Regions from separate parts of the Homo sapiens genome. Here region 1 is linked to region 2. The links come from fine-mapping of genetic effects on gene expression. A gene starts in region 2. The other region holds a variant in brackets. All regions are shown on one strand. Distances are between the middles of the regions.

Region 1 (16,232 bases), 35 kb before region 2:
TGGGGACGCTGAGTCCCTTTCCTCCGCTTCCTCCTATTTTTGAGGCTGCTGAATCACAGTCACAAGGGCAGTAGTGAGCTGAGCAGGGCCATGGAAAGAGAGAAAAAGAGAATGCAGAGCTGAATCGTATCAGTCCCCGAGAAAGCAAGCTTCAGGTTGAAAAATCTGAAAAAGTCAGACCACATAAAAAGGCGATGACGTGTGGTGGTGGTAGGGGGAGGCATGTGCAGAGGGGCTGACCCTGCCTGAGCCACGCGCTGAGGGCTGTGCAGCCGTATCCTCCCTCCCATAGGCCCATCACTGCTGGGTCCCAGCTCCTTCTCCTCCTCTTCCCTTCGTCCCCAGCACTAGAAGGAATAACTGACGAGGCTGAGGACTCTACCTACCTCCAGAATAAGAAGCTATTTGAGGGATGAGGCTTTTAGATTTGCTAACAAAATCAATAATCATTTTTGTGAATTAATTGCATTCCTCATGCTGTGAATGACATAATATGTAAGACATGTTCATGTTCTCATTAGTGGGACTTGAACAATGAGAACACATGGACACAGGGAGCGGAACATCACACACCGGGGCCCATCAGGGAGTGGGGGCTAGGGGAGGGAGAGCATTATGAGAAATACCTAACGTAGATGACGGGTTGATGGATGCAGCAAACAACCATGGCACGTGTATACCTGTGTAACAAACCTCCACGTTCTGCACATGTATCCCAGAACTTAAACTATAATTAAAAAAAAAAAAGAAAAAAAAGTAATTACAATCTCCCTAAAAAGTAAAAAATTAACATATTGGAAATGATTACCAAATGATACAGCAAATTTACAATTTTTCCATTAGGCGAGGTCTTTAATATTTTTCAGGTTTACAGGGTGTTTAACGAGGTCGTGCATGTAAAAGGGAAACTGGGCTGGGTGAGGTGGCTCACGCCTGTAATCCTAGCACTTTGGGAGGCCAAGGTGGGAGGATCACTTGAGCCTAGGAGTTCGAGACTAGTCTGGGCAATAGCAAGACCCCATCTCTATTTATTTTAAGTAAATATAAAATAAAGTTTTTTAAAGGGGAACTGTTTGTTACTTTTGAGAGTGACAGATTATGACATCCAGAGGCTTATGAGGAAGTAATTTCCCCTCCATGTGAACCGGCATTGGATTTTTAAATAGCTTACCCTGTGGACTCATACCCCAGTCCCTGAACGAGGTGAACTTCTTAATCTTTCTGAACCTCTCAGTTTTCCAGAGTTATTGAAATGGGATATGGGAAGGCTCATATGCGGTGCCTAGTGCACAGAGAACTGGTGGGTGCTCATTCAGTGTGCACTTACTTCCCTTCTCCTCTCAATGCTAAGAATTTGTTTAATCTTTCAAATTAAAGTGTTATGAAAAATTAGACCTCAGATCCACTGTGGCAATAGGCATATTCATGTCCTCAAACCCCTTTGTACTGTGGGAGCTACAGAAGATGATGAATAGTGTTAAATTAGTGAGGGCAGTTAAAGGAAAGAAACCGGGCTGTCCTGAAACCAGAGGTGGGACATGAAGGGAAGGGAAGAACGTAAGATTCCCAAGACATTCCTGCTATTCCCAGCAGGAGGATGTGCACTTCCCCAGTCCTGGCACAGGATGAGAAAGGACTGTGCATGCACAGGGACACTAACTACATTGCAGAGGCTGCTGAGTGACACTGAGAATAAAGATGAAGAGGTGGAGTTGAGGCTGGGCTTGTGTGCTCTCAAGCCCCTGTGCCAGCTAACGTCTCGATTGTACTTGTTAGACTCCTAAGAAAAAGCGTGCCATTGAACCAGGACTGCAAATGCAAACAAATAAGGAGAAAGGGGCTCTTAAATAAGGAGAAAGGGGCTCTTTCTCTTTTTGTGATGAAAGAGTCCGTGTTATTATCAGTTCAGGAAAATACTGCTATCATTAAGCCTTGTCCCCAAGACTCTCTTGAGTGTAATCCCAATGATGGCCTCCGCAGCTGAACAGGGCCTGGACCAGGCTATCCCGGTTGTGGGATGGGAGGCTGCATTCTAGACTGAAGAAAGAGACCCTTTGGACTAATAAGCAATAAAATCCTATGACCATGTTTCTGTTTGCCCATCTCATAAGCTACTTTCTAGGAATTCCACACACTGCTGTAAATTTGATTTTCCATCTTGTGTGATGGAGTAGGTAACAATGTGTTCCGTCAAGCTTCAGCAGAGATTTCAGCAGCAAATGTCAGGGATAAGAGGTAGATGATATAGATATAGAGATATAAATATTAATCATAAGGATTATATATCCTACAGGGAATGATATATATCTAAGGGTGTATCACAGCCTGCGTGTTCACAGCCTAGCCTGCCAGCAGCCCCCAGAAGAAACTGCGGGAATTCAGCGTGAACATGATACAATCAGCAGGTAACTCTTGAGCGACGGGTTCTTACGTTTTTGGTAATTGAAACACCTAAAGATATCTTTGCCTTAAGGCCTGAGTCTCAGAAAGATGACTTCGTGTGAGGGTGAGTGAGGGGTTGAAACTGCCTGCAGAGAGGCAGGTAGCAAGTTCCAAGAGGGGTCCTGGTGGGCGTTTCTGCCCAGGACGGCAGTGGTGAGGATACAGACAGTGCGTGCCTGCAACGATGCAACATTGTGGTGGGATCACAGCATTGTGTGGGTGTTGAATTCTTTAACTTCGGTGCTGAACTAGAGTGAATGAGGAGTAGAACATGAATAGAAAGAACCTCAGTACTTGGCATCACGGTGACTGAAGGGAACTCAGCCAGAATTAAGATGAAGGAGATGGTTTGAGTCTGGGGGGATGGCTGCCAGGTGAAATTTGGGATGCCTCAGTTCACAATGTCAAAAAGGGGGTTAGAGGTCAGTGAGGAACTGACAACTGTAGATACAGCCTGAGGGATTCCGTCTGAATGCGATGGCGATGTTTGTGGGAACTACTGTGTCCATCCAGGGAAGCAAGGCTGTGCCTTGAGGGGGCACCTGTACTTGGGTAGTGGGAAGATGAAAGAAGGTCAAGGAGTGCAGAGGCTAGACACCTACGAAAGCTCCGTGTGGAAACACCTGAACAGAAGGGCATCAGATCCAGGGCATGAGGGGCAGGGCTGGGCAGTGTCCAGCTTTGCCATTGAGAAACCGTGTGTGTGTGCGTGTGTGTGTGTGTGTGTGTGTGTGCGTGTGCACGTGCATGCATGTGTGTGCACGTGTGTACGTAAGTGTGCACATGTACAGTGGACTATAATTACAAGAAAACCACTCCTCTCTAATCCCTGCCCCTTTCTATCCTGTGACCTTCCTCTCCCTCATCTCCCCTTCCCAGGAACTTCTTTTGTCTCAGTCGTTTACGCGACTGCCCTTGCTGCTCCCCATGTCACCAGCTGCTCTTTTTTTAAAGCAAAGTTCTGGAGAGAATAGTAGTGAAGAGCAGGAGTTTGGCTTTCAGTCCTGGCTTTACCATTTGCTGCCGTGTAACTAAGGTAGACCAGCTGTCCTCCCGAGTCGCTCAGTCAATTAGGGGTGAAAACATGGACCTTGCTGAGATATTAAGGCAACATCAAGTTATTATTACAGTACCTGGCTCACAGTGAGTGGTAAATAACTTGTCTTTATTATAAATTGCCGCATACATTTACCCCTCTATCTTTCTTGCTTCCTTCATTCTCTCATTTCTTTCTTCACTATCCCTACAACTTCTCCCTTTTCTCCCAGTTTAGGCTCTGAAAAGAAACTCTGGAATCAGAAATCTCAGAAAGAGAAATGTCATAATTCCTTTACTTCTTAATAATTAGACTTAAAAATGTGCTAGCTTGACTTTGCTCGGCCACAGCTCACTGTTTTGACAGGCATCTTGAGCTCGTTAGAGATAAGATCACATTCTGTGAAGTTTATTTCATAAGTATTGTTGATAGAATCTGGGAGGAGATACGATAATTGAATGTTTCACAAGAATATTGGCAACTTTCTGACAAAACGTGTGTGGTTTTGAAACTAGAGAAGCAGGAGGGAAAAACTGAACTTATTCCTCCATTGAAACCCTGGAGTTTGAGTTGTTTTCCAGTAACAGTAGAGTTCTTCAGAACATCAACTGGGGCAGCAGGGAACACCTGTTGCAACATGTAAGCTGAGCAGATCTCCGTTAGTTTTACAGTCTATGCATAAGGTACCAAATCAAGAATAAAAATCCTTCATAAATTATCTGCTTACAGGATTTATTATGAATAATGATTAATTAATTATTGTTTATTAATAATATTTTTCAATCCTATCATGGAGCATAACATCCCCATCAGGAACTGGAAGGTGTGCAATGCTTGAGCGATTGTAGGAGGTGAGAAGCCAATGGTGCAGTCGAAAGGACCCACGAATCAGCAGGTGGCAACCCAGTTGCTTCCTAACAGCAATGGTTTCAGAAATCAAATTGGCTGTTTTCTATCACTGAGAGGTGACAGCTGCTCGGCAAAGAAATTGTGCAGGAAATTGGAATGTCACTCAAGCCATCAGATAAAACCTAGCCCTAGAGGGCAGTCTGATCTTTCCGTAGACAATTCCAGGGGCTACCTTTCTCACGCCAATCAAGAGCTTTCTCCCTGTGCTCAAAATTCCATGGTCTGGGGTCTCATTAACTACCATGACCTATTCAGGGGCTGAAGTAACGTATACCTTGGCTCTTCCACTCCAGAGACTCACAGGACCTAGAATTGTGCTGCTTTTACTGCCAGTGTGAGTGACAGGGCTGCCTGTGCGTGTGTGGTCATGACAGCGGAGATCAGCATGAATCCGGGAGCTGGATGCAAGCGTGAGCCAGTGACGGGGGGTGGTCCTATCAATACAGCCCCCAGCTGCTCACAAAGCCCTTCTGCTTGCTTTATGTCACCGCCTGCCTCCCTCCTACCACTACCTCCCAAAATGGGAAAGCCTAAGAAGGTGGACAATTCCTTGTCGATGTGGATGTAGAGAGAAATCAAACACTCTGACGGTGATGGGAGCTGCAGCACGCTTCGCTCTACCTGGAACATAATTGTCATTCGTGAGGTATTCTTCTCACATACTTAATGTCTCTATCGTCCCCAAGTCTTGGCAATTGAAGGAGGTATTTCTCCCCATTTTACAGATGCAGAAGTTCAGGAATATTAAATGGTTTAGTTGCGGCCACTGAGTAGGAAGGAGAGCAAAGACACAGAGGCTGCTACTGGGGCTCCTGGTTCTGACCCTTCCGCATCCCAGCGTCTCCACAGAGGTAAGGAGAATCAAACAGGCTATCACCTGGGAAAGGAAGAGTGGATGCAAGAGGGAGGAAAGTGATCAATTCCTCTTCTCAGGTATTATTCATTCCAATTTTCTCAATTTGCCACAAGTGCCAGAAAATGCCGCAACATGAAAAGTGACAACCATAGCTTCTTAGGGGACTCCCCTAAAGCCTTCATCCTTCTGGGTGTGTCTGACAGGCCGTGGCTGGAACTCCCTCTCTTTGTGGTCCTCCTGCTGTCCTATGTGCTGGCCATGTTGGGGAACGTCGCCATCATCCTGGCATCCCGGGTGGATCCTCAACTCCACAGCCCCATGTACATCTTCCTCAGTCACCTGTCCTTCCTGGACCTCTGCTACACCACCACGACAGTCCCTCAGATGCTGGTCAACATGGGCAGTTCCCAGAAGACCATCAGCTATGGAGGCTGCACTGTGCAATATGCAGTCTTCCACTGGCTGGGATGCACGGAGTGCATCGTCCTGGCCGCCATGGCCCTGGACCGCTACGTGGCCATCTGCAAGCCCCTGCACTATGCCGTTCTCATGCACCGTGCTCTCTGTCAGCAGCTCGTGGCTCTGGCCTGGCTCAGTGGCTTCGGCAACTCCTTCGTGCAGGTGGTCCTGACGGTGCAATTGCCATTCTGCGGGCGGCAGGTGCTGAACAACTTTTTCTGTGAGGTGCCGGCCGTGATCAAGCTGTCGTGTGCTGACACCGCTGTGAATGACACCATACTGGCTGTGCTGGTGGCCTTCTTCGTGTTGGTGCCCCTGGCTCTCATCCTTCTCTCCTATGGCTTTATTGCCCGGGCAGTGCTCAGGATCCAGTCCTCCAAGGGACGACACAAGGCCTTTGGGACGTGTTCCTCCCACCTGATGATCGTCTCCCTCTTCTACCTACCTGCGATTTACATGTATCTGCAGCCCCCTTCCAGCTACTCCCAAGAGCAGGGCAAATTTATTTCTCTCTTCTATTCCATAATCACCCCCACTCTCAATCCCTTCACCTACACCCTGAGAAATAAAGATATGAAGGGGGCTCTGAGGAGACTTCTGGCCAGGATCTGGAGGCTCTGTGGATGATGAGGACATGAGATGTAGCATCTCCATCAATTAAAGAACACAGCACAAGTCTATTGTGCACTCAGAGCATCTTTCACTTAAGGAGTTAATACCCAGAGAGCTCAAAAACCCTGTCTTCAAACATCTCACTTCCTGTTATAATGCCCCAAATCCCATAGCGACAAAGTTCATTTTAAACGTATAATTCTAAGAGGCCATATATTTTTAAGCATTGTTTAAATAGACTTCAATAAGTATGTGTGGAATTATTTCACTTCCAATTTCCTGATTCTTTTCTCTTTTCCTCTTCCTATATTTCTTTTATTCTCTCCCCATTTGTCTCTTTTCTATTACTCCTAAGTATACACAAGATGAAGCTGAAATACAATCTTATTTTACTTACAATGAATAAGTGTTTTTCTCCATATACTTAAATCTCCACAAATTTTACACGACTTTTTCAGACAATTCCAGGAATGAAGTAGATTGCTATCTTCTTCCTGTGATTTTGATTTTTTTTTCTCTGTAGTTCACATTTTCTTCTATAGAAAGTTTTTCCATGAAATGTAAACTAGTACAAACACTAGTACAACCACGATGGAAAACATTGTGGATCCTTAAAGAACAAAAAGTAGATCTACCATTTGATCCAGCAATCCCACTACGGGGCATCTACCCAGAGGAAAATAAGTCATTATACGAAAAAGATACTTGCTCATGCGTGTTTATAGCAGCACAATTTGCAATTGGAAAAATATGGAACCATCTGGGCGCAGTGGCTCATGCCTGTAATCCCAGCACTTTGGGAGGCCGAGGCGGGTGAATCACAAGGTCAGGAGTTCAAGACCAGCCTGGCCAAGATGGTGAAACCCCATCTCTACTAAAAATACAAAAATTAGCTGGGCATGGTGGCACACGCCTGTAATCCCAGCTACTCAGGAGGCTGAGGCAGAGAATTGCTTGAACCCGGGAGGCGGAGGTTGCAGTGAGCCGAGATCGCGCCTCTGCACTCCAGACTGGGCGACAGAGCAAGACTCCATCTCAAAAAAAAAAGAAAAAGAAAATGTGAGATATATACCATGGAAAAATACTATTCAGCCATAAAAAGGAATGAAATAATGGCATTCTCAGCAACCTGGCCAGTTTTAATGTCCTAATGCCCAAAGGTTCTCTTTCTCTCTTTCAAGCTCAGCTATGTGTTTCTGATTACATTATTTATATAGGTTATCAAAGTGTTTGTAGCAGGAAGGCAGTCGGTAATAGTTCACCAAGATGCAGAAACCCAGTCTCCAGTTGGTGCTGCTCAGAAGTGCTAACAAGACAGAGTTTGCAACAGAATGTAAATCTCATACTGTTTCCCTTATAAAAATAGTCTTCAGGGTTTTTTTTAAATGTCAGCTCATCTAAAAGGTATGTTTAATAATGTGATTGTTTTACATTCTTATACAAGCTCCTTATATCGACAGTTCATAGACTACACTTTGAGTAGCAAAGTGTGGCTACTTTGATGGCTAATTGTACAGAGGAAATAGTATTTCCATCCTGAGCAATTCCATGCGGTTTAAGAGTTGTCCATGTGTAGAGAAGCAATTAGTAAATATTTCCTTATAACTTAATGCTCTGTGAAGTATAATAGATGAACTGTTCCTCGGATGGGATAAATCCAAAATAAGCTGTTATCAACTGAAAGCAAGATGCATCTTCTACATAATACTTCTAGTTAGGAGCGCAGGCTCTGATACTCTCAAACCTTTCCCTCCACGATTTTCAATCTCCTATCCTATCAAAGATGAAATTCCACTCATTACAGTTAGAGTGAGGTAACGTTTTAAAAATTATCTACAATGGAATCATTTGCCAAAGTGACTTTTAAAATGCACCAAACAATTTAATTTATCTTTAGTGGTTTAGAGAAATAATTTGAAAAATTTCTAGGTACTCTTTTTTAAAATTAAGAAAAGGAATCAATTTAATTAAATACCAAAAAGTTTTACATATTCCTGAATTTTCAACCAGCTACAAAAAGCATGGATTTTTCTTATTAGAAAACAAAACTGTTACAAAAAATTTAAATAAATAAATAGCTGCCATAAAATTTCAACATAATATATAGTCAACTAGTTCTGTGTTATGGTCAGTTAATAGAAAG[A/T]TAGCGGGAATGATGATATGAGCAAAAGTAAACAGAACAAAGAAGAAAAAAGATAGGAAAAAGAAAGTTAGACAGAGAAGAGAAAAATAAAGAAAGTGCTTTATTGAATGAGCTAATTACATGAGGTCACCAAGAGGAACATCCTCTAACTGAGGCGCTGTGATGACAACAACACCCGATGCTGTCATTGTCCTGGTGTCTTCCTCACCCTGGCGTAAAGGAGATGCCCAAGCTCTGCACAGGAAGGCATCGTCGGCAAGCTCTCTTCTCCGACACTCCACCGGAAGGATCACAGAGCTGTGGTCTTGGCCTGGATGGATCGCAGCTCTCTCCACCTGAGGGCCCCCAGCTGGAGGGACCGGAGAACACTGGCGTCTGGCAGCCCCGTTTCCACTCCTACCAAGAAGGCTCAAAGACGACGGTCAGCTCAGGCTTTTCTTCTTGAAGTGTTTCTAACGCACTTTTTGTCTCATAATTGAAATACATTTCAGACAACCTGTAAAAGCAAATAGAAAGCCTGGGTTGCACTCTTCAGATAACTCTGTCAGAGTCGTTAACCTTAAAAGTCTCATCTCTTCATTTCCCTAAACTCCACACACTTCTAAAATGTAAAAAAAAAAAAAAAAAAAAAAGAGGGACCACAACTCCCAGAGTGCTCCGCGTCCTCGCCGCCGTCGCCGCCGCCGAGACCAAGATGGCCGCGAGACTCCGCACCTTCTTCAAGAATGCCTGGGCCAAGGAGCCGGTGCTCGTCGTGTCCTTCGTCACTGGGAGCCTCAGACCCCCAGGACCCCAGCCTGGAGTGGCTGAAGAAACTGTGAGCACCTCCAATGACAGAGGAGGCCCCTCCCACGGCTCCCAATAAAAATGTGGGGAAAAAAAAAAAAAAGCTCTAAGTGCCCAATGTGGTTCCTGTTATATTTTTAACTATCTAGTTGGGAAAATGTTAAGCATACATAAAAGTATAGAAAATAGTATAATGAACCCCCTGTGTCCATTACCCAAGTTCGACAATTAAACAGGTCATGTCAACTTGTTTCTTCTATTGCCCACCCACTCCTCCCACCCATGGATTATTTTAAATACTGCATTTAATGCATCTATCAATAATTCACTTTGTGACACTAAAATATAATTACAATGTCACTATCACACCAAAATCGTTTAACAATAATTTCTTAGTATCACTGTATGTCCAGTCAGCATTTACGCTTCCTCAACTGTCTTGTAAATTTTTTTACCTTATGTTCATTTAGTCACTAACCTGATCAATTCTACACATTGCATTTGCCCAGGATGCCTCTCACATCTTCGATGTAAGTTCTTCCTCCTCTTTAATAAAGTTTCCCTTGCAACTTAACTAATAAATCCACCCATTTGTCCTGCACCATTTATAACCATCTCAATTTGGTGGTGTTATATACTGAATGTTTGTCTTCCTTAACAATTCCCATGATGAAGCCCGAACCCCTAATGTACGGTACTTAAAGGTGAGGCCCTTGGGAAGTAGTTAGAGTTAGATGAAGTTGTGAGGGTGGGGCCCTCAGTATGGGGTGAGTGCCCTTACAGGAGAGATATCAGAGAGTTTGTTCTTTCTCCCCTGTCTTCTCTCCCTTGCCTCCCCTCCCTCCATGCAATCACATAACAAGAAGGTAGCCATCTGCAAATCAGGAAGAGGACTCTCGCCAGCAACCAAATTCATCAGAGACTTGATTTTGGACTTTCTAGCCTCCAGTATTGTGAGATAATAAATCTGTGTTTGAGTCACACAGTCTAAAGCAGCTTGTTATCGCAGCCTGAGAAAACGGGTTGATTGCATTCATGGATTCTTCAATCTATTTTGAGCCTGTCCCTCAGCCTGGGTCCAGAATGTCCCTCAGGGCTAGGTCAGTGATGCTACATGTAGCAGTGTCCCCAGCTTTGACCTGACCAATCCTTTGTTTGTTCCCCCATCTCTCTTAGCTCTGGGAATATTGGCTTGTCCTGCAGCAAATGTGCTCCATTATGTTGGCACAAGGATGCAAGGCTGATTCAAACTTGTATTTATTCAAACCTGCATTCCAACAAGTTCTCAGCCTTGAGATCATTAATATGGACAGAAGTCCCTGGACTAATGGAATTTATATTTTGGGAGCAGAGATAGATAATAAATAAACAAGAAAATGACATAGCACATAAGATGTGCTACACTGCAGAGGAGAATGAGAAGAGAAGAAAAAGTGCTTCTATTTTCAGTAGAATAGTCAAAGACAGCCTCGCAGAGAAGACCTTTAAGCAGAGAATTTAGGAAGGTACAGGGAATAATGCAGGTGGATACTGAAGGGGAGAGAGTTCTAGGCCAGAAGAAAAGCAAGTGCAAAAATCCAGAGATGACAGTGTTCTTGCAAAACAGCAAGGAGATCACTGTACTGGGGCAGAATAAGCAAGGGTTGGGAGAAGCGGAATCTTCGGAAGCAGGAGAGGCTGGATTATGTGGGGCATGGAAGCCACCATGAGTTTGTTGCTCTGATTATGAAAGTGATAAGAAGACGATGTTGACAAGAGTGATATGATGCGAGTTACGTTTTAGCTGAATCCCTTGTCTGCTAAAATCAGAATAACAGATGCAGGGTGACCTGTCAGAATGCCACCATGACAATCCAGACACCAGGTGATGGTGGCTTGAGCCAAGGAAGAAGCCGTGAAGCTGGCCTGAAGTGGTCAGGGAGTGGCCAAGCTGGGAAGGCAGAGCTCACAGGATGTGCTGACACATTGGACATGATTATAAGGAAAAAGAGACAGTGACGACAGAACCAGAAATGTTTTGGCCCGAGCAACTTGGAGGAAGTGACCATCGACTGAAATGGGGAAGAATCAGGTTTCGGGTAGAAGAGAGTAGCAAGGGTGTGGATCTAGATGTGACGTTTGAGAGGTTTATTAAACCTTCAAGAAGAAAGATCAGCCAAGCACGGAGACACAGAATTTATGGACATATAATCTGGAGGCCACAGCACACATATCATGAAGCCAGAAGACCAGATAATTTAAATGAGGGAGAAAGTGTAGGGAAGAAAAATTAGCCCAGCGACTAAGCTCTGAGGATTCAACACATAAGGGTCAGGATGATGAAGAAGAGGCCAGAAAGGAGACTGAGTAGAAGGATCTGATGAAATAGGAGAAAACCCAGGAGAGCATGTTGGCCTTAAAGCCAAGCAGTGAAAACGTCTTCAGGGAAAAGTGCAATCATCACGGCTGACAGAACCGTGGGACTCGCCAGGAAGCTCTTGCTAGAGAGGAGACGACTACCTCAGTAGTATCACAGAGGTGGGCTGGCAATATCCTGACACACTGTCGAATTTCGTGTAATTTCCCATCTTGCTATTCCTGGAGCACTCTTTTCCCATTTAGAAATCCTCAGAAACCGCCAGGCACGGAGGCTCACACCTGTAATCCCAGCACTTGGGGAGGCCGAGGCAGGCAGATCACGAGGTCAGGAGATGGAGACCATCCTGGCTAACACAGTGAAACCCCAACTCTACTAAAAATACAAAAAATTAGCCGGGTGTGGTGGCAGGCGCCTGTGGTCCCAGCTACTTGGGAGGCCGAGGCAGGAGAATGGCGTGAACCCGGGAGGCGGAGCTTGCAGTGAGCCGAGATCATGCCACTGCACTCCAGCCTGGGCGACAGAGCAAGACTCTGTCTCAAGGAAAAAAAAAATAAATCCTCAGAAACAAAACAACAAGATCCCCACTATGTAAAGACCCTTCCAATTTGGATGACCCATAGACGAGTTCTACGAAGTTCGGTTCCTTGTGTAGAACAGAATCCTCCTTGGCCATGATCGCATGAGGGCTTGTGTTTCTTTGGGGAATGTGGGTGAAATCCAGCTTAGCCTTGGTGATTCTAACCATCTCAGTGAAGTGGAATGTGTAGTTTAACCCCATATTCTCTATTTTAAAATATCCACCACAACTGACCCAGGCCCAACCTAATCTTGAGTGGCTGCAAATGAAGCGAGAGCCATCCTGGATTTTGATAACAGTCAACGTTTCCTGAGAACTCAGAGTCCCACCACGGGCATCTCTGCAGAGCACACTCACCCCAGGTTCTGCAGGAGGCAGCTCTGCTGTTTCAGCACTTCACAGAACATCATGACCCCCAGGTCGCCCAGGTCATTGTTGCCCAGGCTCAGCTTTCGCAGGCTCTGGCTGGAGGTCAGAAGTGTGGAAAGATCCCAGCAGCAGTGTGACGTGAGGTTGCAGTTGTCTAATCTGCAAAAAGGGGGTGATTTAAAGAAAATGTCCCCTTAACCATCCCCCTAGCTCCCCAAGATTTTAGCATCTTAGCCTGTCTTGTTTCAGGTGGAAAAAAAAAAAGCACAGGAGCACAGGACTAACTAGCTTCAAGCAGCCTTGTATGCTGGTAATTATTCTTCTCTCTCTTTTTCAAATCCACTGCATTGCACAGATCAAATTAGTAACAGTGGTTTGTTCATTGATTTACCAAATTCTGTGCCTTTCCCTACATTTCCATAAAATGTAAGTGTCATACTGCCCTCCTTGTTTTGTGGTACAGAAAACTGTGATGGTAAGGACTCAAGTTCCTACATCTATATCATCTGGAAGGACTCCTCCCAGTCCCATGATCCTGTAACAAGGCAAACACTAAGAAGACACCTCACTTCTAAGATACAGATTATCTTGTGGCCACTCTGCCTAAACGTCCCTCCACCCTTGGCCACCATGTGTTCTCATTGCTGTAATAAACCAAAGGACTTACTCCAACACCTGAAGCTTGCAGTCGGGGTGCAAGAGTCCCTCACAGAGTAGTTTGATCCCCTTGTCTCCGAGAGTGTTGCCTCGCAGGTAAAGGTGCGTGAGATTCTGATTAGTGCTGAGTACCGAGGACAAAGCTGAACAACAGACTGACGTAAGGCCAGAATTCACCAACCTGTAGAAGGACAGGGAGAAGAGTCCTCAGTACCCAGCTGTTCCCCAACATTGTGCAGCTGCTTTGACTCAGTGCCTCGTCCTCTCTCAGCAGCTGCAGCCTTCAGCTCAGAGAGCAGGAGCCAGCATCTCAGATATGATCTGGGGAGAGCAAGACCTGCTGTCTCTGGCTGTCACAGGAGACACAAATGATGTCTCAGCAGATGCTTTGCTGTATGAGTCCGACAGAAAGAGCCAAGGCAAACTGAGCCAGTTACCCCATACTCCTCCTCCTCCTCACACAGCTTTCCTCCGGCCAGGAGTGCTCCTCAGCACCACTTCTTCCAGAAACACATCCCAGTGGTTATCCTCAACTAATAATCCCCGTAACACTGCAGACACCCACACTGCAGGGGCCTTTTTTTTTTTTTTTAAGAGAGACAGGAAAAAAAAATCCTCCTCATGGGAAGTCGGTGCTGATTTAAACATCAAAGACAACAGGTGAACGTCCATTGTGACCTTCTAAGCTGTAGCTAGGGCTGTGACAGGAACACGGCGGGGCCCTTAGCAATTGCCACCTCCCGCCTTCCTGCGCCCCCAAATGCCCCTTTCACATCTTTCTCGCTGCAGCCCTCAACCACGTTGGAGAGGTGGGAGGATCGCTTGAGTCCAGGAAGTCGAGGCTGCAGTGAGCCATGATTGCGCTGCCACACTCTAGCCTGGGTGACAGAGTGAGACCCTGCCTAAATAAATAAATAAATAAGGCCAGGTGCAGTGGCTTATGCCTGTAATCCCAGCACTTTGGGAGGTCCAGCACTTTGGGAGGGTGGATCACGAGGTCAGGAGTTCAAAACCAGCCTGGCCAACATGGTGAAAGCCCATCTCTACTAAAAATATAAAAATTAGTTAGGGTGGTGGTGGGCACCTGTAATCCCAGCTACTTGGGAGGCTGAGGCAGGAGAATTGCTTGAACCTGGGAGGCAGAGGTTGCAGTGAGCCGAGATTGCCACTGCACTTCAACCTGGGCAACAAAGTGAGACTCTGTCTCAAAAATAAATAAATAAATAGAAAAAGCCAGGCTCTTGCTCAGTCACCCAGGCCAAGTGCACAGCTCACTGCAGTCTTAAACTCCTGGGCTCAGACAATCCACCCACCTTGGCCTCCCAAAGTGCTGGGATTACAGGCATGAGCCACTGTGCCTGACCCAGAGACCAGTCTTATTTGATTATTATATCAACCTGGCAAGGAAGGAGTGCAGCTAAAACTATTACATACATTTTACATATTAGAAATCTAAGGCTTATAAAAATTACATGTTTCTCTCAAGGCCACAGAGCAGGTGTGTGGTGGGGAGGGATCCAGACCTGGACTTTCCACCTTTTAGTCTCATCTTCTCCCCACTGCCCTTTCTGTCCACCTCTCTCTTCCTTCTGCACAGCAAAAGGCCTTTTAGAGCATAAAACCCCAAAAATGCATCAATCTCGATGGAATTAAGAGTTTTGATGTACTATTCTTGAGTCAAATTAAGCCCATTCTATCACCCAGGAAGAGCATAAGAGCTCTAAAATCACTGGTGGCGTAATTCCTAGGAGCACAGATGCTTCTATTCCATGAAGCCAGGAATAGCGCAGGTGATTGCCTCCTTCCTGCCAGAGTCCTTGGCAATGGCATGTTTTTTAAGCTCTTTGGTGTCTACGAGGCAGGAAAAATAGAAATACAGAAAAAGTGTATTCAGACAGTAAAGCATGAACAGATGACCAGCAGGAAAAAGTGATTATCCATCCACTGGTTTCTATCTTCCCAATTAAGGAAGAGTCAAACTGAAAAGACACAGTAAGTAAGACTAATAGGCAAATGAAGCCCAAGAGAGACAGACAAAAACAAAGCAAGTTTTGAGTGGCTTCTACTAAGCTCTCATCCCCGGTAAGAATTCTATCAGAGGGTTGTTGTTAATTAACATGCAGAAGGGATTAGTAGCATTCCTGGCAAAGGCCAGGGACATTCTAGTAGAATGGGGATGGTCTTCAAAGAGGAAAAGAGAAAATATTTTTTAAATTATGTAATTAAAGTTATGCAGGCTTTACCACTATTTCCAAAAAGGAGTAGAATGGATTATTCAACAGATGTTTGGGGAGCACTACACAGTAGTAGTAGAAATTGCAACAGACGGTGCAGTTTTGTTAAGAAAACGTCATATCCAAATTGTGAAAATGCTGGTAACTATTAAGCAACGGTTACACTGAACACATAATAAAATGTTTAAAGAATCAAACAACCATGTCCCACCAACCAATCCTTGGATTAGAGGAATGTGATTGACATCTCGATTTCAACCAATCCACCTAACTGAGCTCTACATTTACCAAGCACGGATATCTTGCCATGTACTGTATTAAGTTAATTGGTTGGGGATTTTTATTTATTAACTACCTGCCTATGTCACAAAACTGTCTCATAATGAAAACTGAATCCCAGTGCTTTGGGAGGCCAAGGTGGGAGGACCACTTGAGGCCAGGAGTTTGAGACCAGCCTGGGCAACATAGCAAGACCCTGTCTCTACATAAAAAATTTTAAACATTTTAAACATTACCCAGGCATGGTAGTACACACCTGTAGTCCTAGCTAGTCAGAAGGCTGAGGCAGGAAGATTGCTTGAGCCCAGGAGAGTTCAAGGCTACAGTGAGCTATGATCCTACCACTGCACTCCAGTCTGAGCCACAGAGCAAAACCCTGTCTTAAAAAAAGAAAAGAAAAGAAAGGAAAATAAGGAAAGGAAAGGGGAAAGGGAAAGGGGGGGGGGAGGGGAAGGGAAGGGAGAAAGAGAAAGAAAGAAAGAGAGAGAGAGAGAAAGAAAGAAAGAAAGAGAAA
Region 2 (16,232 bases):
AGAAATTCAGGTTAGGTAAAACAAGAGTTAGTCACTAGGGGAAATATATAAGACAGATAACTTCAGGTGGGCAGGAATCTACAAGTAACATAAATGATTTTTTTTTTTTTTTTGAGACAGGGCCTCACTCTATTGCCCAGGCTGGAGTGCAATGACACAATCATGGCTCCCTGCAGCCTCAACCTCCTGGGCTCAAGTGATCCTCCCACCTCAGCCTCCAGAACAGCTGGGACTATTGACACGTGCCACCACACCTAACTAATGTTTGCATTTTTTGTAGAGACAGGTTCTCACTATGTTGCCCAGGCTGGTCTCAAACTCCTGGGCTCAAGCAATCCTCCCATCTTGGCCTCCTGAAGTGCTGGGATTACAGGCATAAGCCACTGCGCCCAGCCCATAAAAGACCTCTGACAGCTGTCTACTTGGTAACCATATCACAAAATAAAATCCAAAAAATCTAAGCCAAAACCAAAATCTTATTCTTTTTTTTTAAGAGACAGAGTCTTGCTTTGTTTCCAAAGCTGGAGGGCAGTGGCATGGTCATAGCTCACTCCAGCCTGGAACTCCTGAGCTCAAGTGATGCACCCACTTCAGCCACCTGAGTAACTGGGACTCAGGTAGGAGCCATGACAGTAAATTAGCCAAAGTCTATTACCTAAAACCTAACCCCACCCCAGGAAACAAACAAACAAACTTCTAACCCTAGTTATAACTTTTCTGCCTCAAAATCCAGATATGGAAGCAAAGACGGTGTAGTGGTTAAGAGCCAGGCTTTGATCAGAGACATGCCCTGCTTTTTACCCCAGCTCTGGTTATGGCTAGAAATAAACCATGGGCCAGTTAGGATCTCTTCCAGGCTCACCTCATTCACTTGCAGGAGGGATAATACCAGAAGCTGTTTCATGGGTTTCTTGAATGTGCCATAAAATCCATAAAAACTGCTTAGCAAAGTACTTCTACAGTTGTGATTATGACACTTTCATTTGGGTATGTGAGTATATAAGTACTGACACAATGATAATTGCTTTATTTACTTAGAGATGAGGTCTCCCTATGTTGCTCAGGCTGGTTTTGAGCTCCTGGGCTCAAGCGATCCTCCTGCCTTAGCCTCCTGAGTAGCTGGGACTACAGGTGAGAGCCATTGCAGCAACTGGTTTCTGACCTCCCCCGGCTGCACACTGCTGTCTGTTTCCCCAGTGTCATTACACCCACACTGCTGCCCTGCCTTAACATGTGTCTCCCTATCCACTGACTCATTTGTACTCCTCCTTCCCATCACCACCAGCTCTACATCATCATCCTGCAATACCCTGCCCTTCTCTGAGCCCTACCTTTGCCTAGAACACAAGACAAAAGAAAGAACCTTATCCCCAATGTGTACATGGGGATTAAGAGAATTTCTTTTACATTCCAATTCCCAAAGTGGTGGTGAAAGGAAAGGCTTCTGCCCCAAACTCCACGGTTCTTCAAGGAGAGAGGCTGCCCTCTGGGCCATAGGAAGCAGAGGCCCAAGCCTGCTGACCACACAGCAGATACTGGACAAAACATGTGGTCTGAGAAGCTGGATGGAGAATTGGAGGCAGGTCTAGGCACTGCTGAGATTCAGATAAAGAGGGACTAATCATGGCAGGTGCCCAGGGGGTAGGTACAGTCTGCATCAGCTTTTTAAAGGAGTTAGAGAAAGCAAACAGTTTGCCTCCACCTTCTCATAGCACTACCGTGAGAGGGGAAAAGAGAAAAAACCAAGACAATACAAGAAAAAAAAATTTTTTTTTGAAACAGGGTCTTGCTCTTTAGCCCAGGCTGGAGTGCCGTGGTGCAATCTCAGCTCACTGCAACCTCCACTCCCCATGTTCAAGCAATTCTCCTACCTCAGCCTCCTGAGTAGCTGGGATTACAGGTGCCCACCACCACACCCGGCTAATTTTTTTTGTATTTTTAGTAGAGATGGGGTTTTGCCATGTTGGCCAGGCTGGTGTTGAACTCCTGACCTCAGGTGATCCACCCACCTCAGCCTCACAAAGTGCTGGAATTACAGGCATGAGCCACCATGCCCGGCCATGATTTAAAAAAAAAAAAATCATACTAACTTCTGTGCATCAAAGGACACAGTTAACCAAATGAAAAGACAACCCACAGAATAGGAGAAAATATTTGTAAATCATATATCTGATATGGGGTTAATATCTAGAATACATAAAGAACTCCTACAAGGCAACAACAAAAGCCAAACCTGGTCTGAAAATGAGAAAAGAACTTGAACAGAACTTTCTCTGAAGAAGCTCTATAAATGGCCAACAAGCAGTGAAAATGTGCTCAGCATCACTTATCATTAGGGAAACGGAAATCAAAACTACAGTGAGATACCACCTCACACTCATTAGAATGGCTACTATAAAAAAGAAAAAATAAATAAAAATAACGTGTTCTTAGGATATGGAGAAATTGGAACCCTTGTGTGCTGTTGGTGGGAAATGGTGCAGATGGTATCTAAAACAGTAGAGCAGTTCTTCAAAATATTTAACAGAATTACCGTATGATTCAGAAATTTCACTTCTGAGTATATACCCCAGAGAATTCAAAGCAGGGTCTTGAAGAGATATTTGTGCACCAACACTCATAACAGCATTAACAATAACAAAAAGGTAGAAGTAATCCAGGTGTTCATCAACAGATAACTAAACAAAATTTGGTATATGGTACCATGGAGTATTTATACAGTCTTTTTTAAAGGAAGGGAATTCCGACACATGCTACAACATAGTTGAACCCGGAGGACATTATGCTGAGTGAAATAAACTACTCATAAAGGAAAAAATGCTGTATGTTTCCACTTATATGAGGTACCCAGAGTAGTAAGATTCACAGAGATGGCAAATAGAATGGTGGTTACCAGGGCTGGGAGAATGAGGCAATGAGGAGTTATCATTCAATGGGTGAGGAGTTTCAGTTTTGCAAGATGAAAACAGTTCTGGAGACTGGTTGCACAATGTGAGTGTACCTAACACTACTGAACTGTACATTTAAAAATTATTACGGCCGGGCGCGGTGGCTCACACCTGTAATTCCAGCACTTTGCGAGGCCGAGGCGGGTGGATCACCTGAGGTCGGGAGTTTGAGACCAACCTGACCAACATGGAGAAACCCCATCTCTACTAAAAATACAAAATTAGCCGGGCGTGGAGGTGCAATGCCTGTAATCCCAGCTACTTGGGAGGCTGAGGCAGGAAAATCGCTTGAACCCGGGAGGTGGAGGTTGCAGTGAGCCAAGATCTCACCATTGCACTCCAGCCTGGGCAACAAGAGCAACTCCGTCTCAAAAAAAAATATATATATATATATATATAAAGATGGAAAATTGTACACTATGTGCACTTGGCCACAATTTTTTTTAAAAGTCTTCCTTCCACTCACCCCACTTCGGCTCATCTCTTTTTGCTTTCTCATAAAGGTCTCTCCTGTTGATCGCAGCGAAGATCCACACGGCCATGGCCCACGCCTTCTCCTCCCCATTGAAGTCGATCATTAGCGTGGCTAGATCCACATGGTCTGCCTTCTCTGTCTGACCCCTCGGGAGGGGGATGCAGCCCTTCTGGGGAGGATAGTCCTCTAAGTGCATCTTAAATTTCTTCAAGTCCACATCCTCCAGGTCCTCCAGGTACCTGGCCAGCTTGCAGCGGGTGCTTGCCATCTTCATCTGCAGCTGTTTTCAGGGTCCTTAGGCTTCGGTCCACACTAAGATACCAGGCAGTGAACACGGCACACGGATGAGTCTTTTTTAAAGTCTCCACTTTGAGAGATATAAATTATCAAAAACTCAGCAAACAGAAAGAAAAAAATGTCACATGACTGTAACAAGTCAAAATCTTTAATTTTGAAAAGTTAGCCAAGGCCGGGCACAGTGGCTCACGCCTGTAATCCCAGCACTTTGAGAGGCCAAGGCAGGCAGATCACCTGAGCTGAGGAATTCAAGACCAGCCTGGCCAACATGGCAAAACTGTGTCTCTACTAAAAGTACAAAAATGAGCCGGGTGTGGTGGCGGGCGCCTGTAATCCCAGCTACTCAGGAAGTTGAGGTAGGAGAATTGATTGAACCCGGGAAGTGGAGGCTGCAGTGAGCCAAGATCACGCCACTGCACTCCAGCCTAGGCGACACAGCAAGACTCCATCTCAAAAAAAAAAAAGTTAGCCAAATGCTTACCAGAAAGTTCTCCTGTTGGCTCGATCCAGGAGTGTGTCCTGAGCCATGGAAGAAAGGTTTCCCTATGGAGGGAAAAATATGCAAACAAATCCATAAACAGGATTGTATTACAGTTTACGGTGAACAACCACTTCACGATGCCATCTTGACCCATCAGCAAGAAAATTTTTGTCCCGTTGATTACGGGGCTATGACATTGGACAAACTCTTCACTATTCCTCAACTTCAGTTTCCTCATCTACAAAATGAGAAAGCAGAAGAGAATGTTTTCAGTTCCTCCAAACTGAAGGCTCTGGCTCTTTGCTTCTGTTTTTGTGAGGGAAGAGGGATGAGAGACAATAGAAGGAGAAGGCCAGGAGGTGAGTAAGTGTGTTGATAACAGAACAGGACGTGGCTAGGGAGAGAGGAGAGAGAACATAAAAGCTTGCAGAGGAGGGGACAGTCTTTGACTGCACTTCTATCAACCAGTGGATTGAAGTGAGATGAAGCTGGGAGTGCATAATGGAGAATAATAAAAACATACATCCCTGTAATCCCAGCACTTTGGGAGGCCGAGGTGGGCGGATCACCTGAGGTCAGGAGTTGGAGACCAGGCTCACCAAACAACAGGGAGAAATCCCGTCTCTACTAAAAATACAAAAATTAACCGGGCATGGTACCAGGCACCTGTAATCCCAGCTACTCGGGAGGCTGAGGCAGGAGAATCGCTTGAACCCAGGAGGCGGAGGTTGCGATGAGCCAAGATCACACCACTGCACTCCAGCCTGGGCAATAAGAGCAAAACTCCATCTCAAAAAATAAAATAGAATAAAATAAAATAAATAAAAACATACATCCTTTAATGTCTCCTTGCAAAATTCGCAATTGTTATCATTATAATTCACATTAATTTAGAGCTTTCCACAGGCTAGGCACTCACTGATGTTTTTCCCCATCTAACCTGCACAGAGCTCTATGAGGTGCACCTATTCCTAGCCCCATTTTATAGATGCATAAACTGAGTCTTAGGGGGACTAGGAAGCCTGCCGAGGGGTTTAGAACCAGGAAGGAACAGAGCCAGGATTTTGACCAGAGATATGAGACCATGTCTTCCATCACTTGTTTCAGTCAGACAAAGACAAAGACAACAAAATAGATGACTAAAAGACACACTTCCCCAGCATTTATCACAGGTGTATCACTGCAGCATTCACCAACATAGTCTTCCCAACTAGACTGTGAGTTCCACAAAAACTAGCAATCACCTGCTGTATCTTTAGATCTTCCATATCTCCTAGAGTCCGGATGGATGAACAAGTTGGCTTTGTTTGGAATTGTTCCCTCCTTGATCCCTTGATTATACTCTATTTGGCAAAGCACCTCAACCTAAAGCCATAAATAACACTCAAGGGAGGCAGAGAGCCTGGAAAACGGTGGAGCTCTCCAAATTGGAATTTCTGTGACTGCAGTTCAATGTCAAGATGCCTCAGACTCACTCATCTCTCCCGTCCCATCTCCATTCCTGCCTATCTACTCCTCGCCTCCTGAGCCCTGCAAACCCAGCCCTGTGCATCCTGAGGTGACTGCTCTCCAGACAGCCCTATTAGCTCCGCATACCCTCCCAGCTCCTGCCCATCCTGAGGTGACTGCTCTCCAGACAGCCCTATTAGCTCCGCATACCCTCCCAGCTCCTGCCCCATCAGTCCTTCCATCTGCATCAGGATTCTGCCTTTCTTCTGTGCTCCTTCCACCCTAACACCAGCACAAAAATCTGCTGCCCTTTGGTCTTTAAGGAGGTTTGTTTCCTTCTGTATATCCCATCCATCTTCTCCCCTGGGAGGGATACTGGGCAAATCTGCTGAAGTCGTGGGTGTAAACTATGGTTGCTGCCGCTGTCCTCCCCGCTTCCCCCCGCCACATACACACACACGAACTTGCACACGTAGAGCCCAAATAATGATAAAAGAACATTCCAGAAATGTTGTTGAAGCACAACCTTGGAGACGCCAGAAGAAATTCCTAGTGCATTAACCAGGACAAGTTCTGCCCTCTGAACACAATCTCCCCCACTGCTCTCCCGGTCCTGTCGCCCACACTGCCCCGCGGAGCTGGACTTACCCAGATGCCAGCCTCAGGAACAGCTAGAGAGGAAATGCAATGAATTTATAGCAGTCGCAGCCCCAGAAGGGGCAGGAAGGATGTGGTCTCCACTTACATCAGAGCAGAGGCAGAGAGACTAATGGTTAATCACATAGCTGGATTTTCCAAATGGGATCAACAGTGTTGTCAAAACCGTGTCTCGGTTCCATACTGGGGTTCACCTTGCTCTCCTCTGAGGCACCCCACAGAAGCAGGGTGGGAGGCCAGTATGAGATGGGGCTGGGGGTCAAATCGGCAGTGCTAAATGGATGTTGCCTCTGACACTGCCCGCTGCAACGGCTCCACTGAGAGTGAGGGAAGTGAAACTAAGGACATGCCATGCGAGTGAGTAAAGAATCCAGAGCATGACCTGACCCAGCCTTCAAACTCCAGAGTCCATGCCCTGTCCTCTCACAGCAAGATGGCTGGAAGGCAGTACAGGTTCTCTCCGACATGTTCTACTTTTAAAGCACAAATTTTACTCCCTGACTCATTGACTCACCTGTTCCACTAACACTCACGGAATGGCTGGTATGTGGCAGGCATGCACACAAAGCCTCAGCTTGAGTAGCTTGAGGAGAGACACACACAGACCTACTCTGCAGCTCATGAGACGGCCGCAGGACCACAGACCGGCAAAGGCACAAGTTCAACAGAGCTTGGTGGGTGAGAGGCACTCGCTCAGCCTCTGGGTGAGTGAAAAGGACGAGCACCCAGTTCAGTGGAGGGATGTCAGCAAATGACTGGGTCTGTCTGTGCCTCATACCTGTAAAAGGGTGACAATAATTGCCTGCTACTTCTTTAGATCTTCCAAATCTCCTAGACTCAGGATGGATGAACAAGTGGTTTTGCTTGGAATTGCCCCCTCCTTGATCCCTTCATTATACTGCATTTGACCAAGCACTACATCAACCCAAATAACGGTACCTATCCTAGAAGGCTGTCAGAAAACACTGAGTGAATGGCTAAACGTGAGGCCTTTAAAACAGAGCCTGGCACAGAGAAGCTAGAATAAGCAGTTGGTTCCGATGACTACCACCTTTCTACAGAACTGCAGAGAGAATGCTCTACAACATGAGAGAGGCATCTAGTCCTGCTTAGGGGCATGACAGCAGACCTGAGTCTCCATGAACCAGGTGAAAGGTGTCATTCGGGGCTGGAGCTGAGGCAGGAGCAGCAAAAACTTCAGGTGCTGAAGCTAGAGAGAAAGCAGACCAAATATGCTCCAAAAGAAAGGAGCTCAGCCTGGGTGCAGTGGCTCATGCCTGTAATCCCAGCACTTTGAGAGGCCAAGGCAGGCAGATCACAAGGTCAGGAGTTTGAGACCAGCCTGGCCAACATGACGAAACCCCATCTCTACTAAAAATATAAAAAAAAATAGCTGGGTGTGGTGGCGGGCACCTGTAATCCCAGCTACTCAGGAAGCTGAGGCAAGAGAATCACTTGAACCTGGGAGGTGGAGGCTGCAGTGAGCTGAGATTGTGCCACTGCACTCCAGCCTGGGTGACAAGAGCAAGACTCCATTTCAAAAAAAAAAAAAGGAGCTCATTGGCTGAACCTGGGATCTTTTTGTTTTTGTTTGTTTAGTCAAGTTAATTTAGGTATAATTCAGCCGGGCGCAGTGGCTCACGCCTGTAATCCCAGCTCTCAGGGAGGCAAGAGGCGGGAGGATAGCTTGAGCCCAGGAGTTCGAGACCTGCCTGGGCAATATAGTGAGACCCCATTCTCCAGAAAAAGGAAAAAAAAAAGACAAATTTAGGTATAATTCATATGCAGTAAAAATCCATGCCTTTATAAAAACAGACCCATAGACCAGTGGAACAGAAATAAACTCAAGTATATGCAGTCAACTAATTCTTTGACAAGGTCACCAAGAAGACACAATGGAGAAAGGACAATCTCTTCAATAAAGATGTTGGCTATAGAAGTGTGAAAAAAAAATCAAGAAAAATATAAGATTTTGAAAAATTAAGCTTTTGGTGAAACTGGATTTCCACACGCAAAAGAATAAAACTTGGCACACACAAAAACCAACTCAAAATGGATTAAAGATCTAAACATAAGATCTAAAACTGTAAAACTCCTAGAAGAAAATAGAGAAGAAGCCAGGCATGGTGGCTCATGCCTGTAATCCCAGCACTCTGGGAGGCTGAGGCAGGAGGATCACCTGAGGCCAGAAGTTCACAGTCAGCCTGGGCAACATAGTGAGACTTTGTGTCTACAAAATTAAAAAAAAAAAAATTAGCCAGGCATGGTGCTGTGCACCTGTAGCCCAGCTACTCAGGAGGCCGAGGCAAGAAGATCACTTGAGCCCAGGAATTTGAGGTTACAGTGAGCTATAATGACACTACTGCATTCCAGCCTGGGTAACAGAATGAGACCCAATCTCTAAACAGATAAAAAACTAAATATAAAAAATAGAAAACAGAGGAGAAAACTTCTTGATATTAGCCTTGGCATGGATATTTTTAATGTCTCAACAAAAGCAAAGGAACAAAAGTAAAGATAAATAAGTGGGAATACATCAAAGTAAAAAGCTCCTGTATAGCAAAAGAAACAATCAACAGAGTGAAAAGGTAGCCAACAAATTGGAAGAAAATAGTTTTAAGCCATATATCAGATAAGTAGTTAATATGCAAAATATGTAAGGAATTCACACAACTCAAAGCATAAAACAAATAATCTGATTTTTAAAATGAAGAAAGGAACTGAATAGACATTTCTCTAAAAAAGAAACAAAAATGGTCAACATGTATACAAAAAAGTGCTCAACATCACTAATCATCAGGGAAATGCAAACCAAACCCACAATGAGGTACCACCTCAAACCTGTTAGGATGGCTATTAGCAAAATGACAAGAGACAAACATTGGCTAGGGCGTGAAGAACAGGGAACCCTTGCACATTGCTGCTGGGAATGCAGATTGGTGCAGCCATTGCAGAAAACAATATGGAGGTTCCTAAAGAAATTAAAAATAGAACTACCGTATGACCCAGCAATCCTTCTTCTGAGTGTGTATCCAAAGGAAATAAAATCACCACCTCACAAAGACATCTGTGCACTCATGTTCATAGCAGCATTATTCACCATGGTCCAGATAGGCAAACAACCCAAGTGTCTATTGACAGATGAATAAATAAAGAGTTTGGGGCATATATACACAATACAATCTTAGTTAGTATTAAAAATTGAGACTCTGCTATTTGCCACAACATAGATGAACCCGGTGGACTTTACACAAAGCATAATAAGCCAGGCACAGAAAGACAAACACTACATGATCTCACTCATATGTGGAACCTTAAAAAAAAAAAAAAAAAAAGTTAGGCCAGGAGTGGTGCCTCACACCTGTAATCCCAGCACTTTGGGAGGCTGAGGTGAGTGGATCACTTGAGCCCAAGAGCTTGAGACCAGCCTGGGCAAGATAGTGAGGCTTCACCTCTACCAAAAAAATGAAAAAAAGAAAAGAAAGGAGGGAGGGAGGGAAGGAAGCCAGGTGCAGTGGTGTGCACATGTCACCCCAGCTACTTGAGAGGCTGGGAGGCTGAGGTGGGAGGATTGCTTGAGTCTGGGAGGTCGAGGCTGCAGTGAGCCGAGATCACACCACTGCACTCCAGCCTGAGTGACAGACCGAGATCCTGTCTCAAAAAAAAATAGTTGAATATATAGAAACAGAGAGTTACCGGGGTAGAGGAAATAAAATGACGGTCAAAGGGTACGAAATTTCGGTTATGTAGGATAAATAAGCCGAGAGATCTAACAAACAGTGTGGGAACGATAGTTAAAAATATTATAAACCTGAAATTTGCTAAGAGAGATTTTAGATGTTTTTACCACCCACAAGAAAGATTATTATGTGAGATGGTGGCTATGTTAACTCATGTTAATTTGCTTGACTGCAGCAATCATTTCACTATGTATATCAAACTGCCATGTTATACACCTGAAATATGTACAATAAAATAAATATTCGCACCTTTTTCATGCACAGGCCTGTGAGTGCTCACAAGCATATAGCTACCCACCACCACAGCCCACACAGAGCACCTGCATCAGCTGCACATGCTCCCTGTGCAGCCTCTGTCCCCACCCACTGTGCTGCCACATAGTCAGCCTCTGTCCCCACCCGCAGCCCCACTTCTTCCACCTGCTAAAGCATTACCTTTTCCAGAGCATCACATAAACAGTGTGCAGCCTTTGGTGAGCGAGTCCGCTCACTTCATATGATGCCTGTGAGATTCAGATCAGTAGCTTATTCCTTTTTACTGCAGTTAAGTATTTCATGGGTTGGATAGGCCACAATTTGGTTTTCTATTCCCTAGGCAAAGGACAGTTGGGCTGTTTCCGTTTTTGGCAATCGTCAATTATGCCACTGTCACTCATGCAGCTGGCGAACTGGCTGCAATTGTGTAAGGACATCAGTCACTTGGGGCAGTGGGAAGTTCACGAGAAGCAGATGAGGTTTCCAGCCTTCGCTGCTTCACTCTCCGCTGAATGCTGCGACCACTCCTGTGGTCCGACTCCTTGCCTGCGACCCTCACCTCAGCTTTCCTGTGAGGCTCAAATAAAACAAGACCTGATCTATAATACATTATTGTAGAGAGGAAAAAATAAATAAAATAATACCTGACAGCAAAATGTAAACTGTACAGTAGTATTCAAATTGTAGGTCAGGCCAGTTTCAGTGGCTCACACCTGTAATCCCAACGCTTTGGGAGGTTTGAGGCAGGAGGATCACTTGAAGCCAGGAGGCCAAGAGCAGCCTGGGCAACATAGTGAGACCCCATCTCCACAAAAAATTAAAAAATAGACGGATGTGGTGGTGCATGCCTGTAGTACCAGCTACTCAGGACGCTGAGGTGGGAGGATCGCTTGAGCCCAGGAAATTGAGGCTGCAGTGAGCTAGGACTGTGCCACTGCACTCCAGCCTGGGTGACAGAGTGAGACCCTATATTAAAAAAATGCAGATTATGAATCTTGAAAAGATACTCTAATCATACATAAAAACTTGTCAATGAAAGACCACCATACTCTGTGTGTTATTATGCATTCTGAAAAAATTTTGTTTCAGATTTGGGAATATCAAAATCAACACAAATAAATAAGTCAACTCACAAAAGTAAAACGCGGTGATTTTCCATACATCATTCATGCAAAAAAAAATAATAATAATTTACTCTTGTACATTTAAGAAAAATAATTGCTTCCATTAAATACCCAAAGCTCACTTAAGTGGACTGGAACTCACAGCACTGAATTCCAAACTAAAATTGCATGAATGATTTCAAGTTGAAATCACCTGTGGTCCCCAGCTACTGGGGAGGCTGAGGTGGGAGGATCTTCTGAACCCAGGAAGTCAAGGCTTGCAGTGAACTGAGATTGTGTCACTGCACTTCAGCCTGGGTGACAGAGCCAAATCCTGTCTCCAAATAAATAAATAAATAAAAATACGCAAATAAATAAAAATTTAAAAAGAACTTAATCCCCCAATACAATAGTATTCAGGGGTGTGGTGTTTGTGGGGTGATTGAGTTTGTGGGGTGATGAATGGGATTCACACACTTGTAAAAGGGCTCCGGGTTCAAGGGGGTGCTCTCTCTTGCCTATCTGCCATGGGCCATGTGAGGACATGGCAACAAGGCACCATCTTGGAAGCAGAGAGCACTTCTCACCGGGCACCAAGGCCAGCGCCTTGATCCTGGACCTCACGGCCTCCAGAGCTCTAAGAAATAAATTTCTGCTCCTTAGAAATTACCCAGTCTCAGGTGTTTTGTTAGTACAAACGGACTAAGACACAAGCCCAAGTGGGATGATCTCAGGGGTGCTCAGCAAAGGCAGAGATCAGCCCAGAAGCCAGACATCCTCCCCTACTAGAGAGAACAGAAGAGATCGGAGGTGGGGAGTGCCAAAGTATCTGAGGTTACCAAGAAACAGACTGCATTTCAAACTGAAAGTGACTGGCTGATATTAAAAATGGCAATTTCACTTTCTCTCACCAGAAAAAATGTGACTAGCAGGAAGGGAAAAGGTATGAACAAAGACAAATTGGGTTTCAGAAAGTACAGTCATAACATTAGCGAGACTTTGTGAGTTCTTGTGAGGAGACGTGACCTTCCGTTGCTGCTGCTGCTCTTCCCTCTTTCCAGGGGTGACTGCTCCTCTGGGGCCTGGAGTGCTGGCGCTGAGTCAGCTTCCCCAGCTGAGGTGGGTTTTCCTAATGTGTCTATGACCCAAGAGTCCCAGGGGCCCCCGATTCCTCGACCTCTACACTTTCTGAGACACAGACTAAAAAGTGGATGGCCATCAAGAAAAAAGCTGTCAGTTCTTACTTTACGAAAGCCAAGTCCTTCATATAAGCATGCTATGTAATATGTTGGAATTGGCTTCTTCATCCCATTTATCTTCTCCTTTTCCTGTGTTCATAATCTGATCTCTAGAACCCACCAAGAGTGTTAGAGCCAGAGCCCCTTGTCTTGGTTCTTTGCCTCATCTACCTTTAAGGAATGCCTCCCAGTGCTCTCCAATATCTCTGAAAGACACATGCCAAGTTAAAGCAAATCGAGAGGACTTTATTGCAAACTCACAAAGAGAAGGAAAACAGGTAAGTATTCTTCATTACAAAAGTAATAGATAGTATGATTTTGTTTTTTGTTCATTTGTTTGTTTGTTTACTTGAGACGGAGTCCACTCTATTGCCCATGCTGGAGTGCAGTGGCGCAATCTCGGCTCACTGTAATTTCTGCCTCCCGCATTCAAGCAATTCTCCTGCCTCAGCCTCCCGAGTAGCTGGGACTACAGGCACCCACCACCACGCCCGGCTAATTTTTGTATTTTTAGTAGAGATGGGGTTTCACCATATTGGTCAGGCTGGTCTCCAACTCCTGACCTCAGGTGATCCACGCACCTCGGCCTCCCAAAGTGCTGGGATTACAGGCGCGAGCCACCACGCCCAGCCAATAGTATGATTTTTGTGAGGCATACATGGCTTGACTAAAAACCAGTGACTGAGTCACTTATATTTTATTTCATTGCTGAAATATAAACAGTTTCATATATGAGGGAATAAATTCAATCCCACCTACATTTTTTTCTTTTTCACAATTTTCGGTGCTTTTAAAAAATATTGTCTTCTTTTGAATACATTTTTAGTTGATTCATCTTTATTGTGAGGTATAGACACAAAATCTCAGTCTCACAGTATACTTACATTTCTAAGTTTGTTGCCAAGATGTAAAATCAGGGCTTTTACATAAACTAGTCAGATTTCAGGTTTCTGTTTAAAACTTAGAATTCTAGAACTAAGTCAACCACCATCCCTTCAACAAACGTGGCACCAGGAGCTTGTGCAGGCTGCCCCCACTGAGCATGGACTCAGGTTTTCCACAGTCCTCACCACTCCCTACTACCTCCTACTTTCCGTCCACACCTCTCATTTATATCGCCCACCGGAAACTCGAGGAATTGGAATTCACAGCACCTGACTTTCAACCTTGCCTTTAAACAAATAAATAATCAAAAAATAAACAATCAAGTTCCTTCATCAGAGATAAGGGACATTTGAGAGCAGTCAGTTATCTGCAGGAAAAAAAAAAAAAAACAAAAACGGTGATTTTAGTGCTCCTTGTCCATAACAGGTGGCTATGCCCAAGAGCCAAAAGGTAGAGACAACCCCAGTCTCCCGCAACAGATGAATGGAAAAACAACAAGGGCTATACACACACCACGGAATAGTCTAAAGAGAAAGGAAATTCTGACACACACTGCAACATGGACAAACCCTGAGGACATTTGCTGAGTGCGACAGGCCAGTCACCAAGGGACACACACTGTACGATTCTATGTATAGGAAGTTTCTACAGTAACCAAATTCACAGAAACAAAAAATAGAACCAGGGACAAAAAAAAACAGAGGGTGGGGGGATTGGGGAGAGAGGAATGGGGAATGAGTGCTTCATGAGTACAGAGTTTCACTTTTGCAAGATGAAAGCATTCTGGAGATTGGTTGTGCAACAATATGATTATTAAAAGTAAGAAACTGTATTTCGCTTTACCAGATATACCAATATAAATAATAAATGGACTGAATTCTTGAAATATATTTATAAGCATAGAGAAAAGAATGGAAAATACATACCACTTTTGCCTCCGAGGTCACCCTGAAAAGAGGTGACTGAGTTGGGAGAAGAAGTTTCTGCTTCACACAATTCTGTATCATCTGTTTTTTGCAAATAACATCAGCAATTTGTTAAAAAGTTACAGAAAAAGCTAAAAAGAGTTCCTGATAAAGAGGGCAGGGGGAAAGCTCTAGCCCCCGTGTCATTTCTAAAATCAACTACGAACAACAAGAAAGAGAAACAGAAAAGGAATCTCCACTTCTATGAAGACACCACTCAGTGGGGGACTGACCCCCAGGTGCTTGGCACCTGGGACTGGGAAGAGGAGGGCCAGGATGAGGGAGACCCTCTGTAGACCTTGGGGGTGGCAAAGAGAATCAAGGTTTTCCCAGGGCTGAAGCACAAACTAGTGGAGTCATCAACCCTGAGCCCCGCTCTCTTTGGAACCACAAGGTCAAGTCCACGGGCAAACCCCAAAACCTCTTTGGACACTGTGAGCAACAGCAGGAAGTGGGGAGGAAACACGGACGAGCATCTGCCAGAGCAAATGGTTGTCTGTTCCCAGTGTGGGAGAAACTGCAGGTCAAGACCAGCCTCAGCCATGCTGACACCAGTCACTGAGAAGTGCAAGTGAAATCACCCCAAATCTGTGACATGTAGGTTTTGGTGTGAGTCAAGGAGACTTCCTGTTAGTCTGGAGAGGACCACACCCCACAAAGAGGAGCAGAGAGCACAGGATGAAAGCAGGAGGCAGGACTCACGCTGCCTGCCCTGCCAGCACGTCCCCAGGCCTCGGCCTGGCACTGTTCCAGTGCCCGAACCTCGCTGTCACTCTGATGACTGGTGACGCGGATACATCCTTTATCAGAACAAGGACTTCGAGTGCATGAAATAAAACACAGAGATGACAAAGAGAATGGTAAAACATTTTTAAAGTTTGTAATATTTATGCACCAATTAATCATATCTAGCAGCGGGCCTAATAACTGGCATAATTTGAAAGTAGTGGTGACAGCAACTGACGTTTCAGCAAAACTGTAACAATATGAAGGTATCTAATTTCTAATGTGAAAAATGTATAGGACCTACTGATACTAATGGGCTGTGTCACTCACATTCATTAGAGAAAATAAAGAAGAGAACATTCTTCCCATCCAAACTCACAGATCTCCCCTGAATGATATCCACAGACTCCTTGGGGATATTTGCTAGGCCTTCTCCCAACTACTCTCCAAAACAGCGCTACTCCAGGAAAAATTCCATTATTTCAAGAACAGTGACCAATTTTTTTAAAAGAACCATCACGGAAAATATTAAAGATAATGTCAGAGAAGAAAACAAAAAGAGGAAAGGCATATGGCAGACAGAAAGATAATGGAGAACACTGAGTGATGACGGTATACCACAAAGCAGGCACAATAACGGCTCCCAAAGATGCCCATAGCCTAACCCCTGTAAACCATAAGTACTTGATGTGACGTGGCACTCTCATGATGTGACGTGGTGCTCTCATGATGTAGCGTGGTGCTCTCATGATGTGACATGGTGCTCTCATGACGTGACATGGCGCTCTCATGATGTGACGTGGCGCTCTCATGATGTGACGTGGCGCTCTCATGATGTGACATGGCGCTCTCATGACGTGACGCAGCGCTCTCATGACGTGACATGGTGCTCTCATGATGTGACGTGGTGCTCTCATGACATGATGCGACACACTCATGATGTGGTGTGGCATTCTCATGACGTAACGCGGTGCTCTAATGATGTGGCACGGTGCTCCATGAAGTGACACAGT

The links.
Region 1: its variant is fine-mapped to the expression of NLRP3 in whole blood (INTERVAL, PIP 0.97).

Annotation. Positions count from the first base shown.
Region 1 is chr1:247,441,126-247,457,357 of GRCh38, reverse strand. NLRP3 (NLR family pyrin domain containing 3) reads right to left here. Exons shown (of 10, transcript NM_001243133.2): 8 at 13,216-13,386; 9 at 12,537-12,707; 10 at 8,541-8,953. The coding sequence ends at 8,854. OR2B11 (olfactory receptor family 2 subfamily B member 11) reads left to right here. Exons shown (of 2, transcript NM_001004492.2): 2 at 2,294-8,176. The coding sequence starts at 5,376. The coding sequence ends at 6,329. LOC124904575 (a long non-coding RNA gene) reads left to right here and starts at 9,131. Exons shown (of 2, transcript XR_007067005.1): 1 at 9,131-9,274. The variant A/T (reference allele first, on the strand shown) is at 8,458.
Region 2 is chr1:247,406,260-247,422,491 of GRCh38, reverse strand. NLRP3 (NLR family pyrin domain containing 3) reads right to left here and starts at 6,319. Exons shown (of 10, transcript NM_001243133.2): 1 at 6,299-6,319; 2 at 3,415-4,439. The coding sequence starts at 3,691. RefSeq lists enhancers at 11,916-11,975, 12,086-12,135.